Regions from separate parts of the Homo sapiens genome. Here all the other regions are linked to region 2. Evidence: fine-mapped expression QTL. A gene starts in region 2. Each other region holds a variant in brackets. All regions are shown on one strand. Distances are from middle to middle.

Region 1 (4,239 bases), 66 kb after region 2:
TTTAAAAATCATTGTTTTAAATTTCAGAGGTCAAACACCAGCACAGGCTGAAACCAATTATCTGAATAAAGCCAAATGGCTAGAAATGTATGGGGTTGATATGCATGTGGTCAAGGTAAGCATTGTGTTGTGATGCTTTTTTAAAAATTTATTCTTTGGAGGTTCGCAGTGACTGTGGAATTTTTCAGTATGAGGGAGGGCATGGAGTTTGCATAAGCTAGCACTGGGTACTTTGGATGTATGGTTAAAAAGTTTGAGATTAAATACCAAATGACTAGAATCTCACAGAAAGGTTCATTATAAGAAAGAAGAGAAGCAACCAACATCCCTAACAAGGTACTTGGTCCTTTTAAGCTGTTATTTTATTTTATTTTATTTTTTTGCTATAAAAAATTGTTTTAAGCTTTTGAGCCATTTGTTATCCTTTTTACTTCCTGTTATACGACTTACACTGAGTAGGCTCTGTTAAAATAATTCAGGATGCAAAGTTGAAGATTTATAGCTTAAAGACTTTGATAAACTTTAGAACAGCTTTGTAGTGATTTAAGTTATTTCTAGTTTAACTAGTAACATTTTTCCAGAAAGGCGGTTGTATTAGTTCATTCTCGCACTGCTATAAAGACATAAATTTATAAAGAGGTTCAATTGGCTCATGGTTTTGCAGGCTGTACAGGCTTCTCCCTCTCAGGAGGCCTCAGGAAACTTATAATCATTGGGCAACGTGAAGGGCAAACAGGCACATCTGTACATGGCTGGCAGGAGGGAGAGAGAGCAAAGAGGGAGGTGCTACACACTTTCAGACAACCAGATCTTGTGAGAACTCATTCACTATCATGAGAACAGCAAGGGGGAAGTCCGTCTCCATGATTCAGTCACCTCCCACCAGGCCCCTCCTCCAATACTGGGGATTACAATATGACACAAGATTTGGGTGTAGACATAGAGCCAAACCGTATCAGCAGTCTTTTCCAAAATACATGATTTAAGTGGTAAGTATAATATGGGAAGAATGTGGAAACAGCTTTGTTTGTAGTGGGAGTGTAACTACCCACTTTCAATGAAGATACACTTTAAAACTCTAGTGTTTCAATGACTAGAAATAAAAATATATGCATAAATTTTTCTGAGAATATTATTATGGATACTCTAATTGTTGAAAACATCTCATATATTAATATTAGCCTGTATATAATTAATACAATTCAATACAAAAATAAAATTTAAAAGTTGTGTCAATGTGAAACCTGTTTTGTACAAATAAAGCTAACACATTTTTCTCCCCTTAAATTAGGCTAGAGATGGGAATGACTATAGTTTGGGACTAACACCAACAGGAGTCCTTGTTTTTGAAGGAGATACCAAAATTGGCTTATTTTTTTGGTAAGCAAGAGTTATTGTCAAAGATACTTACTGTTGTTTTGGTTTTTAATGAGTAAATAAAGTTAATACATAAACAAGTTTGGAAATCAAATAGTTTTGAAAAACTTGTCAATGAAAGCAACTGTCTCCTGTCACACTATTACGCATCATTATTCCTACTCTCCAGAGGCAATTATTAAAACTCTTCTAGCTGTATTTCCCATTAGTTTCAAAGTATACCACAATCTATATCTTGATATAAATATTTATATTTTTATATGTATCAGATGTTCACATGGGCACTTTCTCCCTCCATGTAGTCATGTCATTGCTTTTAATATTTATTATTCCACAATCCCTTTACCCCCTATTGTGTAAGAGGAAGATACTAATATTTTTATCCCTTCTCTAAGCTGTGCTCCTTATACTGTTCCAGCTTTTATCGTTCATACTTTTAAATTACATTTATGTTTTACTTTTACATCAAGGATAGATTTTACTTGGATTTCTTGGCCATAATTGAGTCCATCAGATTTTGTCTGGTATTCTAAAAGCTGAGAATCAGGGTACTGTTTACAATAAGATGTCTCTATCAGAATAGTACAGAGCCTAGGTGTTTACTTTTGTACACTAGACAGGGACTGTTAGCGCAAAGACCTCTGGCATCAAACTCAAATTCTGACACATCCAGTTACTTTAAACATAGCCCACTACGTATATTTTTAGCCATTTCTGCTTTATATATCCCATGAAACTGCACCCTAACATCTACTGGCCATAGATAAGGCAAGCTCTGTAGATTAAAGGACCCCAAAACCACTGCTGCCTTTCTGAATTCTCTGACTCAGATCCCTCACACTTAACTGCTGAATGCCATCCCCTAGGCACTTAAGCCCCCTCTCAGGTTCCCCTCTTTACTGAGAGTTTCCTTGCCCTCCTCCCCATCTGGTGGTAGCCTTGCAGCTGCTGTCTCTGGAAGGTCACCTGCTATGAAGGACCACCCCTATCAGGCAACCCTTTCCAAAC[A/G]CTGCTCGATAAAGCCTGTTCTGTGGTACATTTTCTTGATCAGCTCGGAAGTCCTGGAACTCACAACTGGTATTACATTTCCTTTCTTTTTAGCTATTTGTTTTTGTTCTAGAGTTCTTGGCTTCCCCATCTCACATACCCCACACATCCCTTTAAATTACCTGCCTTTGTCTTCTCCTCAAGCTTTTTTAAGTTATCAAGGGTTACATTAAATGGTCCTTCTGTTCCCTGTGGAACTGTTTGCTGCACAGGTTGCTTTCCAGCTTTTATCTTGAGACTTCCCTTTCCTGTGTTCTCAGCTAGGGTCCTGCGTGGTCCTCCCATGGTTTCCTTTTTCTTTGTCCTCCCTGCCCCCGCTAACTGCCTAAGTAAAGAAAGTAACTGCCTAAGAAAAGTAATTTGTTTGAATGCTTAAATGCCTTAAAATGATTTTTTTGTCTTTTATTCTTTCTTGATAATTAGGCTGAGGATAGAATTTTAGGTTGAAAATTATTTCCCTCAAAAAATTGAAAGTAGTATTTCTTTTTTTTTTTTTATTATACTTTAAGTTCTAGGGTACATGTGCAAAGTGTGCAGGTTTGTTACGTATGTATACATGCGCCAAGTTGGTGTGCTGCACCGATTAACTCGTCATTTACATTAGGTATATCTCCTAATGCTATCCCTCCCCCTCCCCCAACCCCACGACAGGCCCCGGTGTGTGATGTTCCCCTTCCTGTGTCCAAGTGTTCTCATTGTTCAGTTCCCACCGACGACTGAGAACATGCGGTGTTTGGTTTTTTGTCCTTGCAATAGTTTGCTGAGAATGATGATTTCCAGCTTCATCCATGTCCCTACAAAGGATATGAACTCATCCTTTTTTATGGCTGCATAGTATTCCATGGTGTATATGTGCCACATTTTCTTAATCCAGTCTATCATTGATGGACATTGGGGTTGGTTCCAAGTCTTTGCTATTGTGAATAGTGCCGCAGTAAACATACGTGTGCATGTGTCTTTATAGCAGCATGATTTATAATCCTTTGGGTATATACCCAGTAATGGGATGGCTGGGTCAGATGGTATTTCTAGTTCTAGATCCTTGAGGAATCGCCACACTGTCTTCCATAATGGTTGCACTAGTTTACAGTCCCACCAACAGTGCAAAAGTGTTCCTGTGTCTCCACATTCTGTCCAGCACCTTCTGTTTCCTGACTTTTTAATGATGGCCATTCTAACTGGTGTGAGATGTATCTCATTGTGGTTTTGATTTGCATTTCTCTGATGGCCAGTGATGATGAGCATTTTTTCATGTGTCTGTTGGCTGCATAAATGTCTTCTTTTGCGAAATGTCTGTTCATATCCTTTGCCCACTTTTTGGTGGGGTTGTTTGTTTTTTTTTCTTGTAAATTTGTTTGAGTTCTTTGTAGATTCTAGATATTAGCACTTTGTCAGATGGGTAGATTGCAAAACTTTTCTCTCATTCTGTAGGTTGCCTGTTCACTCTGATGTAGTTTCTTTTGCTGTGCAGAAGCTCTTTAGTTTAATTAGATCCCATTTGTCAATTTTGGCTTTTGTTGCCATTGCTTTTGGTGTTTTAGACATGAAGTCTTTGCCCATGCCTATGTCCTGAATGGTATTGCCTAGGTTTTCTTCTAGGGTTTTTATGGTTTTAGGTCTAACATTTAAGTCTTTAATCCATCTTGAATTGATTTTTGTATAAGGTGTAAGGAAGGGATCCAGTTTCAGCTTTCTACATACGGCTAGCCAGTTTTCCCGGCACCATTTATTAAATAGGGAATCCTTTCCCCATTTCTTGTTTTTGTCAGGTTTGTCAAAGATTGGATGGTTGTAGATGTGTGGTATTATTTCCGA
Region 2 (4,239 bases):
GACTGCTGGGCATAGCCCTTCATAGGCCTCAGAGCTTCTGTTTTCACTGTTTTGCCACACCAGCGGATCTGCAAGAGAGTAGCCCAGGCAGAACTCAGCTGTTCTTTGCAGCCACCCCAGCGGAGATGCCACACAGACCAGTGAAACCACCTTGGCAGCTCCAGCACCTGTTGAGCTGCCCAGCCAACACCACATGGGGCAGAGATGAGCTGCCAAGCCTGTCTACTACGTTTTGGGGTGGTGGAGGAGTGGGCAGTGCCAAATCCCGAGAAGAAGCTCAATGAGTATTTGTCTCTTTTCATTTCAGCAAGCAGAGGGTCCTCAAGGTAACACCTTCCAGTGGCTCCCCCACCTCTCTCAGAGCTCTAGCCAGGGCCCACAAGGCCCTACATCTTACCCCTTTCCTCTCTGACTGTCACCTCCTCTTCCTCTTGCTTCCTCACTTCTAGCCACACTGGACTTCCTTGAAAAGACAGACCTGTCCCCTTGCAGGGCCTTTTGCCCTTGCTGTTCCCTTCGGTTCTCCCCAGATGGCCACAGGGTTCCTCCCACACCTCCTCTAGGTCTTCATTCAAATGCTACCTTTTTTTTTTTTTTTGAGACTGAGTCTGGCTTTGTCGCCAGGCTGGAGTGCAGTGGCGTGATCTGGGCTCACTGCAACTTCCGCCTCCCGGGTTCGAGCGATTCCCCTGCCTCAGCCTCCTGAGTAGCTGGGACTACAGTCGGACGCCACCAGGCTCAGCTAATTTTTGTATTTTTAGTGGAGACGGAGTTTCACAGTGTTGGCCAGGCTGGTCTCGATCTCCTGACCTCGTGATCCGCCCGCCTCGGCCTCCCAAAGTGTTGGGATTACAGGAGTGAGCCACCGCGCCCAGCCAAATGCCACCTTCTTATTGTGACCTGCTATGTAAAATCGCAAACCCTCACTGCCTGTGGTTATTCCCTACTTGTACTTTTCTTTTTAGCATTTACCAATGTCTGACAGTATTTAATTTCACTAATTTATCTCGTTTATTTTATGTCTCGTTTATATTCCTGCTATAACGTAAACTCCGGGAAGGATTTTTGTCTGTCTTGGTTGTCTGTCGTATCTCGTGTCTAGAACACAGAACTCACAGTAAGTAGGCACTTCAATCAATTACCTGTAGAATGAACGGACTGAATGTCACCTTGTTAGAGTACCCTCCTGACCACACTCTGCTAAGCAGTAATCTTTTATTTCTCTTTCCCAGTTTTATTTTTCCTCATTTACACTTAATCACCTTGTGACACCTATTTGTTTACTGTTTCCCCAGTAGAGTGAAAGTCACTTTAACAGCAGAGATTTAAATGTATTTTAATCCCTACAAAGGAGAAAAAGGGAGGAAATACGTGACAGGCTCTCAATAAGTATTTGCGAAGGATTTAATCTCTTGAACGAATGGATGAATGAATCTAGCAGCCAGCTCCACCAGCCTCCTTCGTGATAGGACTAACTGGGGTCTGTCTGCGGACGGGCGCCTCCTCCGCGGGCGGAGGGCCGCAGCGGGAACTGGGTTTCGGCAGCGCCCCTTTAAACCAGCCGCGGACGCCCGGCTGCTGGCGCTAGTTCCAGCCCGGCCGGGCCCGGCCTCGCCGGTTTCTCTCCAGTCGCCGCGCCGGCCAATTTCCGGGGCGGTGTCATCGCCCGTTTAAGAGCGGAGCGCTCCGCCCTGGGGGCGGAGCTGGGAGGGAGCTTTAAGGGGTGGACGGGCGGGAGGTCGGGGTCCTCCGGGGATTAGAGCCGGTGGGCTCGTTGTGGGCGCCATTTCTCGGCGTCTACCGAGGAGCCGCCCCTTTCTCAGCCTTGCTCGGCTCTTCCCCGCTCTGGTCGCCGGGGCTGCGCCGTCCCCAGCTCAGGTAAGCGCGAGGCCCGGCGGCGGCGCCGCAGTACAGTCCGCTGCGCTCCTAGCCGAGTGGACCCTTCCTCGCCCGCGCCTGCGGTAGCGGCCTTGTCCCCGGGGAGGCGGGCGGGGGCCGCACCCAGACCCTAGGGCGGCCGGCCCCTCTCTCGTCGGGCCGGCAGGGCATTAATCCCGCCGGAGGGAGGGGCGGCGGCGGCCAATGAGGCAGGGCCGCCGAGTTTCGGTCGATACCGCGCGACGGGCCGGGGCGGAGGGCCCGGGGCAGCCGGGTTAATGTTTGCCGAGCGGACGCGCTCCCCGAGCCGCGGGTACCCCTCGCTGGTCCGCTGGGCTGCCGTCCAGCGGGAGAGACAAAAGTCGCAAGGGAAGGGGAAAAACGAACTGAGTTTGTGTCACTGTCTTGGTGGACTTTTCGAGCTAACCTGTATTTGAGAAAAACTTCAGTCTCTTGGGAAAGGAGAGGCAGGTGTGTTCCCATGAAAGACGAGGTCTGAAGGTCCCGCCCCGCCCCCACCCGGGACGGTTGTCGTGCTAATGATGGGTTCTTTGGTGTGTAAATGTTAATTGTGTCTGTGGTTACTCGAATTCTACCTAAGAGCGAGACCCAACTCTTAAAACGTTTGGCAATATTTTAGACTAATATTAAAAGTTTTTAAAGAATTACGGGGAAAATTCCCATAACCGTGTACATTTGTAATGTAACCCACAACTGCATTAACTCAGTTTCTAACATAACCCGTTGCTGAGCTCTAGTTAACCTTGTTGGATTATTTGTGCATGTAATATGCTGTGCAGGCTTTAGAAAATAGGTTAACATTATTCGAAAACGATATGCGTAACTGCTGTTGAATTACTCGCTTGCATTTTCTTTATTGGGAATACTGGGACAAAATATAGTGTTACCTTAAATGGCATTTGCTGTATGTTATATTGCTTTATCAAAAAGCAATTAACCAACCATATTGTGGCCACCAGTCATGTAAGAGTATACATATTTCATGACTAACTTTTGGGTTTTGGGTACTTTTTTTAACCAACTTCTGATAGGATTGCTTAAATTTGCATTTTATGATTCTAAAGGAAATCCTTCTAGTTAGGAACTAGAGTAGAAACTACTGTTTTTTGGAAGCCACATAAACCTACCATCCAAAAATTCCACTGTGTCATTCTAGTGTGTCAGGCGAGATGCGGGTTAAGCCAGCTGTTGGGCCAAAGTAGTGAACAAGCCAGACGAAGTCTTTGTCCTTGTGTGTGAGTGGGGGAAGTAGTCAGTAAAAAAGATAATAATTAACAGATATTTAATTACAATTTCTTTGTTATAAAGAAAAGGCTAAGAGTACTGAAAGAGATGTCGAATTTAGACTCACAAGTCTGAGATTGCTTTTCTGAGAATAAGACATTTCAACTATAAGTCTGAAGTTAGTCCAGTGAAATGGGAGCGGGTGGAAGAGAGGTCAACTGGAAAAAGAGCAATCCAGAAAGGTGGAACAGCTAATGAAAAATGGTCCAGAATTAAAAAGACTCTCCGGCCGAGCAGCAAGAGTACAAGAGCAGAGCAAACAGAGGGGAGTAGGCTGACAGATGGGTCAGGCAAGTAGGAGGAGCTGCATCTAGGACCAGGGCCATTAAAGATTTTAGAACAGGGATCAGATTTGTGGTTGCCAAAAATCCAGTGGCTGCAACATGAAGAGCGCAATTGGAAGAGTGCAGGTGGGAGGGGAAAAGTGAGTATGAGAAAACTTTTTTCACAATCATTAAAAAAAAAAAAAACCCACAACTTTTAGTGATCCATTCATATTATTTTTTTTTTCCATTAAAAAAAATTAGGCCAGGCGCAGTGGCTCACGCCTGTAATCCCAGCACTTTGGGAGGCCGAGGCGGGCGGATCACGAGGTCAGGAGATGGAGACTATCCTGGCTAACACGGTGAAACCCCGCCTCTACTAAAAAAAATAACAAAAAATTAGCCGGTCGTAGCGGCGGGCACCTGTAGTCCCAGCTACTTGGGAGGCTGAGGCAGAAGAATGGCGTAAACCCGGGAGGCAGATCTTGCAGTGAGCCCAGATCGCGCCACTGCACTTCAGCCTGGGCAACAGAGCGAGACTCAAAAAAAAAAAAAAAATTAGGTGGGGTCTTGCTGTGTTGCCCAGGCAGGTCTTGAACTCCTGGCTTCCAACAGTTCCGCCTTAGCCTCCCAAAGTGCTGGGATTACAGACATGAGCCACTGTACCCAGCCATATATTCTTGTTGTGACTTCTGACATGCCCCTCTTCAGAGAGAATCTCAACAGTTTACGTGTGTGTCTGTTTAGCGTGTCTGTGTGTGTGCATGTATCCCATCTCCGTGTAGGATGAAAC
Region 3 (4,239 bases), 270 kb after region 2:
TTAGGGCAAATTGATTTTGAGATTTCTCCTTTTAACTCTCATGTCATGAAGGGGTATTTGTTCTTGAACTCACTTCTTTAATCAACCAGAGGGATGTGTGGGGCTGTGTAAGAGTGTGAGAGCATATGTGTGTGTGAGAAAGTGTATGAGAGCATAAGAGTGCATGGGAGCATGTGCGAGAGCGTGTGTGTTCTGTGAACGTGTTACAGCATGTGAGATTGTGTGTGGTGTGAGCATGTGAACATGTGTGTGAGAGCATGTGTGTGGTGGCGTGAACATGTATGTGTGAGAGCATGTGAACACGCATGTGCATGTTAGAGCCTCTGAGCCTGTGATATGAGCATGTGTTAGAGCATGTATGTGGTGTGAGCATGAACATGTATGTGTGGTATGAGCATGTGAACGTTAGAGCGTATGTGAGTGTGTAGTTGTGTGTGTGTGTGAAAGCGTGAGTGCACCTATGAGAGGACAAGTGTGTGATAGTGTATGGAGTGTGTGTTGTGAGAGCATGTGAGCTTGTGAGTGTACATGAGCACAAATTTGAAAGTGTTGTGAGAGCGTTGTGAACGTGTTATGAGTGAAAGTGTGTATGTGGGTGTGTGTGATAGTGCGTGTGTGATAGTGTGTGAGCTTGTGTGTGAATGTGAGCATGTATGACAGCGTGTGCTAGCATGTGTGAGCCTGTGATAGTGTGTGAGAGCGTGTGAGAGCAAGTGTGTGAATATGTGTGTTTGAATGTGAGAACATGAGCATGTGTGAATGTGAGAACATGAGTGTGAAAATGAGTGTGAGCGTGTGTGTGAATGTGAGTTAATGTGAGCGTGTGTGAGCGAGTGTGAATGTGTGAATGTGAGTGAATGTGTGTGAATAAGAGCATGTGTGAATGTGTGTGCGAGTGTGTGAGCATGTGTGAATGTGAATGTGAGAGCGTGAGTGTGTGTGAATGTGAGCGTGTGTGAGTGTGAGCATGTGTGTGAATGTGGGCATGTGTGAGTGTGTTAGTGACCGTTTGTGAGTGTGAATGTGAGAGCGTGTGTGAGCGTGTTGTGAGTGTGTGCGTGTTGTGGGGTAGAGGGTAAGAGGGCAAAGCGAGGAGTAAAGCTAAAGAGCTGGGGATTGAGGTCCCAAGCTGTTCTCCGCGGCAGCCGAGAACCGAGCAGAGAGGTAGGAAACTGGAGCTACGAGCGGTTTGGTCTCTGCCTCAGTGAGGCCCTGCTGAGGGTCTGATGATTTTTGGTGACTGGGTGTCCTCTCCACCCTGCCCAGTGAGGCGGGCGTGGGGTGTGCGCTCCTGTTTCTCCCCTCTAGCCTTGGCTTCGCCCCAGCTGTGCTGGGGTAAGTGACTTCCAGAGTTGTTGGAGGGCTCGCATGTCTGCCCTGAGCCTGAAAGGATTACTTTCCTGTTGGAATGTCTGGGTTAGTTAGGCTTTAATGGAGGATGTGAATGACATTTGGTTTTAGCTAGGTTGAAAGCAAATCGCCTCTAAGTCTTTGTCTTTGTCATCAGCAGCTCTTCAGTGGGTCATCTGTGTGTCACAGCCTCAGAAGACCAGCGAGATGGCTGCCAACAAGAGTAAGGGCCAGAGCTCCTTGGCCCTCCACAAGGTGATCATGGTTGGCAGCGGAGGCGTTGGCAAGTCAGCCCTGACGCTTCAGTTCATGTATGACGAGGTAAGCCCTGCTAGGCACAGACCACCTTCCTTTGGCATTGGCCGTAGCAGTGTCCCTGCTCCCGCTGTTTCTGTGCCGGTCCTCCCGTACACAGGGGTTCACGGAGCAAGTCTGTGTTGAGGTGGCTTCTGAATAGCTTCCTAGGAAGGTCTAATCAGCATAAGATCTGGATTGCTGATTCTAGGTAAATAATTTCAACTCCGGCGGGGATGTGAGAGATCTCTGCTTGCATCGTTTCCATTG[T/C]TATACTTCGAGCTTTCTTTCTGACAAAAGCCCAGGGGAGGAGAGAGGAGCCTTTGTACAGATTTTCCAAACAACACAAGCATTTAGCCTTGTGATTGTCAGTCAATCGCGAAGTGAAAGAGAGTGAAAGGGGAGCTGAGCTGTCATACAACTTAATCCTTTCGCAAGTGATAGACATCAGATCCAGTTCTCCCGTGCGGCAAGGTAAAGCTTGCACTATCCTTGCCCAAAATTTACGTCACCTACTTAATGTGGATAACATCACTGGTGTTGAGTTCAGTGTGACAACACAGCCTTGATCCCCGGAGCTACAAAAGTCCCTGCTTGAGCTGTTTGCTAGGATACTTAGCCTACTGTGGGCTCTACATCTGCAGATTCAAGCAATGTAGAATGAAACGTTGCGGAATGAAAATATTCGGGAAAAAAACCCAATGAAAAATAACAATGCAATGATAAAAACAATACAAATTAAAACATGCAATGTAACAACTGTTTGCGTAGCCTTTACATTGTATTATGTATTATAAGTAATCTAGAGATGATTTAAAGTGTACGGGAGGATGTTACATGTAAATGCTGTGCCATTTTAAGTAAAGGACTTGAGCATCTGCAGATTTTGGTATTTGGTGGGGGTCATGGAACCATTTCTCTAGGGATACCGAGGGATGACTGTAGTACAGGCAGGGAGAGTGTTCCGAGCAGAGCTTAAACCTCAGGGCCTCTCACTTGCATTGCGGCCACATGGCTTTATGAGATTTGCGAAAGAAAGCTATCACAACCACGTCAGTTAAGATCACTACCTCTTTTCACTAGACTTTCCCATTGTCCTGCTTCCTCTTATGCTGGGTGCAGCTGGAGTGGCCATGGGCATTTTCGGCCTCTAGCTGAGGGAGTTTGTGTTGGGCTGGGTTAGGTGGGAATAGTGGTATGTGTTGGTGTGGTTTGGAGTCACGCGGCATGTGGCGATTATCGCTGGCTGCAGGAGTACTCCAACCGCCCACTGTGCTGACGTGCGAACATCGTGATGTGAGGTGCAGGGCCAGGGGTGGATCCTGATGCGAACCTGTCCTGTGGCACCTGACACAAGTGTGTGAGAGCTAGAAGCTAGAAACTGGGCCAGAAAAGTCTTTCAGATCTTACAGCTTGTACAGTGAAGCTCAATAGAGGTTTCCTAAATTTGGCAGTAATCCCAAAACTTTCATTACTAGAAATGCCATGTAGTCACATGCACATGTATGTTTATTGCAGCACTATTTACAATAGCAAAGACATGGAACCAACCCAAATGCCCATCAAAGATAGACTGGATAAAGAAAATGTGGCACATATACACCATGGAATACTATGCAGCCATAAAAAAGAATGAGTTCATGTCCTTTGCAGGGACATCGATGAAGCTGGAAACCATCACTCTCAGCAAACACAGGAACAGAAAACCAGACACCACATATTCTCACTCATAAGTGGGAGTTGAACAATGAGAACGCATGGACACAGGGAGGGGAACATCACATGCTGGGGCCTTTTGGGGGGCGGGGGGCAAGGGGAGGGAGAGCATTAGGACAAATACCTAATGCATGTGGGGCTTAAAACCTAGATGATGGGTCGATAGGTGCAGCAAACCACCATGGCACATGTATACCTACATAACCTGCATGTTCTGCACATGTATCCCAGAACTTAAAGTAAAAAGAAAAAAAAAAAAACTCATGTAGTTGTGAAGCTGAAAGAACCTCTTCTAAGCTGTCAGAACAAAAGACATTTTCATTAACCATGCTAAAGGAAAGACTAAATTATTTTTTATTCTCTATAGGAATGTTTCAAAATCATTGGCATATGACAAGAAAAAGTATACAGCAAACAAAAAAGTAGAAGGTATTCTAGAGGTATGTCAGGCAGTTTAATTAATAAAAATATTGTTATTTTGCTGGATTTTGTGATGTCAGTGCTGTTTGTATTAGTTTTTTTTATTACTGTATAATAATCACAAAGTTAGCAGGTTAAAACAACATACATTTGTCATTCCATAGTTTCCATGGGTCCAGAATTGGAGCCTCAGCTGAGTCCTCTGCTCAGAGTCCCACAAGACTCCACTCAAGGTGTCAGCTGGGGCTGTGACCTCTTCTGAGGCGTGGGGGTCCTCTTCCAGGCTCCCTAATTGTTGGTAGAATTTAGTTCCTTGTGGGTGTAGGACACAGGTGCTCGGATTCTACAAGTTGCCCGCAGGCCCCTGCCATGTGCCGTCTCCATAGGCAGCTCATACCACAGTGGCTTGCTTCTCCAAGGCCGGCAGGACAGTCTCCAGCCAGCCTAGACGGTCTTATA

Alleles and levels. Positions count from the first base shown, and alleles are read on the strand shown. Sizes are in standard deviations (SD) of each study's normalised expression. Not every link is listed here.
As copies of G replace A in region 1, the expression in anterior cingulate cortex of the gene that starts at base 1,745 in region 2 goes down (small effect, 0.33 SD a copy in GTEx).

Evidence for each region. PIP is the estimated chance that this variant, and not a neighbour inherited with it, causes the effect. A credible set is the group of variants that fine-mapping cannot tell apart.
Region 1: its variant is the best candidate, but not a certain one, in a credible set for the expression of EPB41L5 in anterior cingulate cortex (GTEx, PIP 0.50).
Region 3: its variant is the best candidate, but not a certain one, in a credible set for the expression of EPB41L5 in blood mononuclear cells (TOPMed, PIP 0.55).

What each region holds. Positions count from the first base shown.
Region 1 is chr2:120,077,202-120,081,440 of GRCh38, forward strand. EPB41L5 (erythrocyte membrane protein band 4.1 like 5) reads left to right here. Exons shown (of 25, transcript NM_020909.4): 9 at 28-115; 10 at 1,292-1,380. Among named protein-coding and RNA genes, the nearest start is that of EPB41L5, 66 kb to the left of the region's middle. The variant A/G (reference allele first, on the strand shown) is at 2,386.
Region 2 is chr2:120,011,333-120,015,571 of GRCh38, forward strand. EPB41L5 (erythrocyte membrane protein band 4.1 like 5) reads left to right here and starts at 1,745. Exons shown (of 25, transcript NM_020909.4): 1 at 1,745-1,878. It overlaps LOC107985817 (a long non-coding RNA gene), which reads left to right. Exons shown (of 4, transcript XR_001739205.2): 3 at 308-326; 4 at 1,061-1,372. RefSeq lists a silencer at 1,921-2,090.
Region 3 is chr2:120,277,108-120,281,346 of GRCh38, forward strand. RALB (RAS like proto-oncogene B) reads left to right here. Exons shown (of 5, transcript NM_002881.3): 2 at 1,511-1,671. The coding sequence starts at 1,558. Among named protein-coding and RNA genes, the nearest start is that of RALB, 26 kb to the left of the region's middle. The variant T/C (reference allele first, on the strand shown) is at 1,915.